Linked DNA regions of Homo sapiens. The protein of the gene in region 1 purifies or fractionates together with the protein of each later gene. This does not show direct contact. Each region holds a gene or a part of one and is shown in the gene's direction. Other genes may lie near its edges.

Region 1 (3,810 bases):
AGCACATTACAAACACAGTGGAGAATATATACCTCAAACTACTCATGGCTCTTTTGGAGGAATGCAATATACAAAACTTTCTACATTCCTGTGTTCATTGAGTTTTGGTGATAAATTTGTATTATTTTATCATCATAAAGGAAACAGTGACTAGCCTTGTCCCTGTGTCCTCCCACAGTCTGCTCCCCTGGCCTCTCCATCATGACCTGATGACCCCTGCCCTGTCAGTGTATTGTGGTTCTTTTATGCCATCTGCCCAGTAAATACTGAGTAAAGCAATGAATGATGAAACAAGTGAATGAACTTTTCATCTCTGTCCTTAGATTATGTTTTTCCTGACTTAACTGAGAAGGCAGGTTCCATTGAAGACACCAGCCAGGCTCAAGAGCTGCCAAACCTCCCCTCTCCCTTGCCCAAGATGAATCTGGTTGAGCCTCCCTGGCATATGCCTCCCAGAGAGGAGGAAGAAGAGGAAGAGGAAGAGGAGGAGAGGGAGAAGGAAGAGGTAGAGAAACAAGAGGAGGAGGAAGAGGAGGAGCTGCTCCCTGTGAATGGATCCCAAGAAGAAGCCAAGCCTCAGGTCCGTGACTTTTCTCTCACCAGCAGCAGCCAGACCCCAGGGGCCACCAAAAGCAGGCATGAAGACTCCGGGGACCAGGCCTCATCAGGTGTGGAGGTGGAGAGCAGCATGGGGCCCAGCTTGCTGCTGCCTTCAGTCACCCCAACTACAGTGACTCCGGGGGACCAGGACTCCACCAGCCAAGAGGCAGAGGCCACAGTGCTGCCAGCTGCAGGGCTTGGGGTAGAGTTCGAGGCTCCTCAGGAAGCAAGCGAGGAAGCCACTGCAGGAGCAGCTGGTTTGTCTGGCCAGCACGAGGAGGTGCCGGCCTTGCCTTCATTCCCTCAAACCACAGCTCCCAGTGGGGCCGAGCACCCAGATGAAGATCCCCTTGGCTCTAGAACCTCAGCCTCTTCCCCACTGGCCCCTGGAGACATGGAACTGACACCTTCCTCTGCTACCTTGGGACAAGAAGATCTCAACCAGCAGCTCCTAGAAGGGCAGGCAGCTGAAGCTCAATCCAGGATACCCTGGGATTCTACGCAGGTAAAGTGAGGGGCATGCGGGCCACCACCCTGTACCTTCTTCACAGAGCCTGGCCATCCCCAGGGCTAGTGTGGCATGGGGGCAGGATCTGCCAGGTTGAGGAGGGAGGCCCTTTCCACAGCACGTAGAACCCCATGGAACTTGTGGGGATGCAAACCTCAGGGCCAACAATGGGTGTTCTCCCCACACTTCTGTGCAAAGGCCTTTGGAGAAACTTGGTGGCCTGGCCTGGGTTTCATTTGTTCATGTGTTACCATTGCCACCCTTAGACATCTTTTGTTTTTTTTTTTTCCCGAGATGGAGTCTCACTCTGTCGCCCAGGCTGGAGTGAAGTGGGCATGATCTCGGTTCACTGCAACCTCCACCGCCCAGGTTCAAGCAATTCTCATACCTCAGCCCCCTGAGTAGCTGGGATTACAGGCATGTGCCACCATGCCTGGCTAATTTTTGTATTTTTAGTGGAGACAGGGTTTCACCATGTTGGCCAGGCTGGTCGGGAACTCCTGACTTCAAGTGATCCACCCGCTATGGCCTCCTGAAGTGCTGGGATTACAGGCATTAGCTACCGCACCCAGCCCACACTTAGACTTCTGCACTGATTCTACCAGCAGCTAGAGCTAGTGGCTGACCTGTGCTTTCCCCATCCCATCTCACCACCCTCCTCCTCCCCACCGACACCCATGTGCATAGCAGGCACAAGTCAGTGTTCACACCCACTGACACCGCAAGGAAAAGAAAGGAGCCCCAGAATATTAACAATAAACTTGCCCTTGAAAGCCAGCATGTGGGGCAAGCTCTCTGCAGCCTGGCCCCTTTGATATAGTCCCCTACTTCCTGGGAATAATGCCTGGCCTCCTCCTCTCACTCAATACATTCCCTGCTTGGTCCCCAAAGACATTCGAGTTTGTACTCCTTGGCATGGTGCCTCACAGAGGCTGTCAGCAGCCCCCTCGCTGTAATACGCCTCCACTGGCCTCCACCTTCCAGCTTCCCAAAAGGCCTCCGACCGGGGCTCTCTCCCCTGTCCCTTTCCTATGCCTTCGTAACTGTCGCCCTTCTTTCTGTCTCCTCGCACAGGTGATCTGCAAGGACTGGAGCAATCTGGCTGGGAAAAACTACATCATTCTGAACATGACAGAGAACATAGACTGTGTGAGTGCCCAGCCAGGCTCCGAACCGCAGGGAAAGGCTGCAGGCAGTGGACAGGGTGGGGCAGAGGGCAGGCTGGGGGGACAAGCAGTGCGTGGGAGAAGGCTTAGTCCTTCAGTTGGTGGCCCAGGGATATACCAGCAGCCATCAACATTACACACAGAGAGCTTTCGTATTTTAAAATGTCCAAAGGCTCTTTGGTTCTTGCTTCCCTCTCTTTTTAATTTAAATGAATACTTTGTTCATGTGTGCACCATCTTACCTCTCCCGTGATATTGAAACCTTTCTGTCTTTTTTAGAGTTGTTTTCTTCCTGTATAGGTTGCTTTTCTCCGTTTTGGGTCTCAGCCTTTTCATATATATACATGCTCTCCACACATGTCTGGTGGAGTTTGTTCATAGCTCTCTCTATCGAAAAAGTGGCTGGAAGCTTTGAGCATAGTGCTAGGGTTGTCAGCTATGGCTTCTCATGAGAGTGGTCTGGCTGGGCCGTATCACTTAGAAATTTGCAATGGCAGCATTGTTAGGTCCTTCCTCCTGAGGTGATTAGAGTCTTTGAAAAGGGAACTTCTGTTCTGTTCGAAGTATAACAAGTTGGTTGTCAGTGTTCTGGGAGCTGGGGTGGAGAGAGAGGGCTGGGTGTTTCAGTATTATAAATATGTATCCATAAATATCAATATTCATGTACTGTCTCTTCCTGTTTGCAGAGTGACCTTCTCCCTCCCCAAAACACACACTTGTGTCTGATGCTCTCTAGGTCAGAGACCCTCTGTTTTATCTTTTTTAAAGAATAAACTTCCAGTCTTCTGCCAGGGAGAAGGGACATTTCTTGGCTGTGCAGCACTGCGGGAAGAACTAGGGACCCAGCCGTTTCTTAAGCAAACTTTCGACCAGCTCATATTTTTAGTAGCATTTTCATCCCCTCTTCCAAAGGTAACCAGGGCCCCTATTCCGGGGCATCTGGGGAGTGTCAATCAGTATGCATCTGATTGCTTCTCAGCTTTCCTCATTTTGGCTTAGGGTTTGGCTCTTTAGAGTTTGCTAAATTAGGAAATTCTAACTCACCATCTGCTTCCAGTGTCTAGATTTTGTTGCTCTTGTCTCCTCTTCTGTTTTGCTTTGTCTCTGGTTTTAGGCCTTAAATTCTTTACTCTTGTTAGTGGGCCTGGGCAAGACTGAAGGGACATGCATGCGTTGAATCCAAAAGTCCCCAGCAAGGTTGGTTTCCCCCACCATCACTATACTGATGGATCTTCACCTAAGTGATGTGTGTTTTCATCCATTGCAGTTATTATTTTTACTGATGCTCAATACCTCATCTTTGGCCAGGGAAAGCCTCTTTGAGTTGGCCTCTGAGTCCTTTTGACCAATCTATTAAGTGTCTGATTGCTTCCTTGCTTTCTGGCATAATAAGACATTCCAGGCTCACCTTCCTCCCCCAGACATGGAGCCCTCATTCCCTTCATTGGGAAATGGTACATGAAGACCACAGATGGGTACTTGGGACCCTTGAACTTTTGGTGTGCATACTTGAACAATACAGCCTAAAGTTCGTAT
Region 2 (3,810 bases), on another chromosome or scaffold:
TATTTTTCCTCTTCTATTAGCTTGAAAGTTATATGCTCTTTTCTCAGTTTTAAGTGGTCACCCTAGAATTTAAAGCAGGCATTCATGTTGTACCAAAGACTAATGATAATGTGTACTTTACCTTCTTCCTGGACAGTGCAAGGATCCTAACACACTTTAACTCCATTTATTGTTGTCATTTGTTTTAATTATTTCTGTTTTAAATCACACAACCCATTGTTTTGTGCAGTCAGATATTTAGATTTTCACCCTTATAGTCACTGTATTTGTTGTTCTTCGTTCCTTCTGGAATCTGACTTTACATCTGGATGGGGATCATTTTCTTTCTCCCTGAAGAATGAAAGTGTGAGTCTGCTAATGAATTCTTTTGGTTTTTGTTTGTTTGTCTCAAAATATCTTTATTTTACCTTCATTCTTGAAGGATACATTTGCTGAGTATAGAATCCCATGCTGGCTGTTACCTTCCTGTATCTCCAAACATATCAGTCATCTGCCTTCTTGCTCCCGCTGTTCCCGCCGTGAAGCCGGGTGTCAGGCTGATTATTGCTCCTGTGAGAGTCATTGCCTTTTTTCCCTCTGGTTCCTTTTTCTTTAAGATTATTATTTTTTTTATGGCCGGGCGCGGTGGCTCACGCCTGTAATCCCAGCACTTTGGGAGGCCGAGACGGGCGGATCACCTTAGGTCGGGAGTTCAAGACCAGCCTGACCAACATGGAGAAACCCCGTCTCTACTAAAAATACAAAATTAGCCAGGCGTAGTGGCGCATGCCTGTAATCCCAGCTCCTCAGGAGGCTGAGGCAGGAGAATCGCTTGAACCCAGGAGGCAGAGGTTGCAGTGAGCCAAGATCACGCCATTGCACTCCAGCCTGGGCAACAAGAGCGAAACTCTGTCTCACAAAAAAAAAAAAAAAAAGAAAAAAAAAGGCTGGGCGTGGTGGCTCACATCTGTAATCTCAGCACTTTGGGAGGCTGAGGTGGGCGGATCACAAGGTCAGGAGATCGTGACCATCCTGGCTAACACGGTGAAACCCTGTCTCTACTAAAAATACAAAAAAATTAGCCGGGTGTGGTGGCGGGCGCCTGTAGTCCCAACTACTGGGGAGGCTGAGGCAGGAGAATGGCGTGAACCCGGGAGGCAGAGCTCGCAGTGAGCAGAGATTGTGCCACTGCACTCCAGCCTGGGCGACAGAGTGAGTCTGATTTTTTTTGAGAAAGAGTCTCACTCTGTTGCCCAGGCTGGAATGCAGTGGCACAATCTCGGCTCACTGCAACCTCCACCTCCCAGATTCAAGCAGTTCTCCCGCCTCAGCCTCCCAAGTAGCTGGAATTACAGGCATGTACCACCACGCCTGGCTAATTTTTGTATTTTTAGTAGAGACGGGGTTTCACCATGTTGGCCAGGCTGGCCTCAACCTCAAGTGATCCACCTGCCTCAGCCTCCCAAAGTGCTGAGATTACAGGCGTGAGCCACTGCACCCGGCCAAGATTCTCTGTTTTTAAGGAGAACAATAGACACTCCAGACTAGATGGGGGAGGACGTGGGTTGAAAAACTACCTATTGGGTACTGTTCTCCCTGCCTGGGTGCAGTATACCCATGTAACCTGCACATGTAGCCCCTGTATCTAAAATAAAAGTTGAAATTGAAAAGAAAGAAAAAATGCTTTTGTGGCACACGTTCTCAGGATTGCCTGGGGCTGTACCACGGGGAAAAAAATTAGAAAAAAATAGTTTCATGTTAAAAAAAACTTTTTTGTTGTTGTTGCTGTTTCCTCTATCCCTCCCTTCTTTTTTTGTGCCTAAATATGGTTTTCTTTTTAGTCATCTCCTTTGGTTTGTAGGACTTTTCAAGTTTGTGGCGTGTCTTTGAATCAGTTTTAGTAAGTGCTTAGACGTCTTTAAATATTCCTTTGCCTTCATTTCTCACATCTTACTCGGGAATCCCAATTATATGAGTCTTAGCCTCTCTCACTGTTTCCTCTGTCTCTTACCCACAATTCTATATCTTCCATTCTTTTGTGCTCTCGGGGACTCGGCCTAGGTTTTGTTATCTGGGTTCCTGGTGCCCAGAGTGGGAGCAGTGAGTCTGTGGCATCAATGAATGCATGAAGCATATTGCTCAAATTGGGGTACAGTGTTTTTTATTTTTCTGTGATCACAGAAGTAATATGTTTATTATACATTATTCAAACATGGTAAACAGTCGCCATAATCCCCCTCCCAGAATTACCCATCATTAATACTGGTTCATGTTCCTTTACTCCTGTATTCATTTCTCTTCATGCTCATCTGCATTGGACGTTAATGGTCTTTTTCACAGTTGCCAGTCTGACAGGTCAACATCCTGTTTGGGTTTGCCTTTGTGATGGGTCTTTGTTTAATCACTTGCTTACATACCCATCTGCAGACTTCCTGAAAGTGGATTCTTGTCACCGTGTGTGTTGACACCTTAGTTTTCACAAGCGACTTCCTGATGCCTAAGGCAAGGCTTTCTCCCTTGGCGTAGGCGGTGCCCATCCCTGCCCCAGCTCACATGGTGGTGCCCTTGAGTCCCAGAGCACGACCCTGACCAGCTCTCATCCCCAGCGCTGGTACCACACTTAGGCTGGGCTGGGGAGGTGAACTGGTGAAGGGCTGGGTTTTGGAGTCAGCCAGACCTGGGCTTGAGGCCAGCAGCACTGACCCGGCCTGATTTTCCTCACTTGGGAAGGTTGGTTAGCAGGGTGGATGTGGCAGTGGATGTGGGTGACCAGAAAGGGGCTGGTGCAATTTATGTGAAAGGCCTGCAGGCCGCGGGAAGTACTGAAGGCAGAGCAGAGCTCTCGGAGTCAGAAAACCCTGCATGTGAATCCAGACAGTCCGCTGAGCAGAGCTCTCGGAGTCAGAAAGCCCTGCGCGTGAGTCCAGACAGTCCACTGAGCTGCTCTGGACAAGTTGTTACACCTCTGAATTTGTTTTCCTGTAAAATACTTTGCTCAAATAGGAGTTGTAACGTCTGCAGAAGGTTCCAGGGCAAGAGCAGTGGATGGAGAGGAAATGGCTGGTGGGTTTGGCTGGTAATGAGGGTGAACAGTGTGGCAGCCACCTAAACCTACTCAGGAGCAGCCTGAGGTCTGCTGGCGGGGTCTGGGCCTCAGGCAGCCTTGGAACACTGGCCTCCCCCACCTCACCTGGTGCCCAACAGTCTCTTCCCTTCACGGCCAGAACATTTAGGGGTCTGTGGTCAGTGGCACTTGTGGCCCTGTGCCAAGGAGTGCCCAGTCTTAGCTGGGGAGAGAAGAGAGGTCTGTGGGGCAGGGGCCGTGCTGGGGTTGCCTCCAGCTTGCTGGAAGGCCCTGGGGAGCTCTGAGCAGCCCATTCTGCTCTCCCTCCAGCCGTGCTTCCTCAAAGACTGGGAAATGCACGTCCACTTCAAAGTCCACGGCACAGGGAAGAAGAACCTCCATGGAGACGGCATCGCCTTGTGGTACACCCGGGACCGCCTCGTGCCAGGTGGGCTGGTGTTCGCTCAGCTGGGCCCTGTGGGGGTGGGCACGGGCATGGCTGCTGGCCCCCTAGGGAGGTGGGGTGGGGCTGCCTGTGGCTCGTGGGGACCAGCGTCTCCTCTCCTGTTAGGAAAGTGCTGCCTCCCGTGGATAAAGTCCTGCGCCTCCGGAAGGAGCCTGGCTCTGGAAGGAAGGTCACTGAGGGGAGAGGAGCAGCTGGGTCCTGCAGCTCAACCCTACACCCTCATTGGCCTGGTTTTACCATTTTAAACAGTTATTGTTGTAAAAAAGCCAAAACATGAAGACTGTGTGGCTGTGACTGCATG

Evidence for each region.
Region 2: the proteins of PODXL2 (region 1) and LMAN2 purify together in Homo sapiens (affinity purification with mass spectrometry; one large-scale study listed by BioGRID and IntAct). This does not show direct contact.

The regions. Positions count from the first base shown.
Region 1 is NC_000003.12:127,660,055-127,663,864, forward strand, and holds part of PODXL2 (podocalyxin-like protein 2 precursor), read left to right. Parts: intron 1-323; coding exon 324-1,105; intron 1,106-2,182; coding exon 2,183-2,257; intron 2,258-3,810. UniProt on the Homo sapiens protein: Acts as a ligand for vascular selectins. Mediates rapid rolling of leukocytes over vascular surfaces through high affinity divalent cation-dependent interactions with E-, P- and L-selectins.
Region 2 is NC_000005.10:177,338,169-177,341,978, reverse strand, and holds part of LMAN2 (vesicular integral-membrane protein VIP36 precursor), read left to right. Parts: intron 1-3,373; coding exon 3,374-3,491; intron 3,492-3,810. UniProt on the Homo sapiens protein: Plays a role as an intracellular lectin in the early secretory pathway. Interacts with N-acetyl-D-galactosamine and high-mannose type glycans and may also bind to O-linked glycans.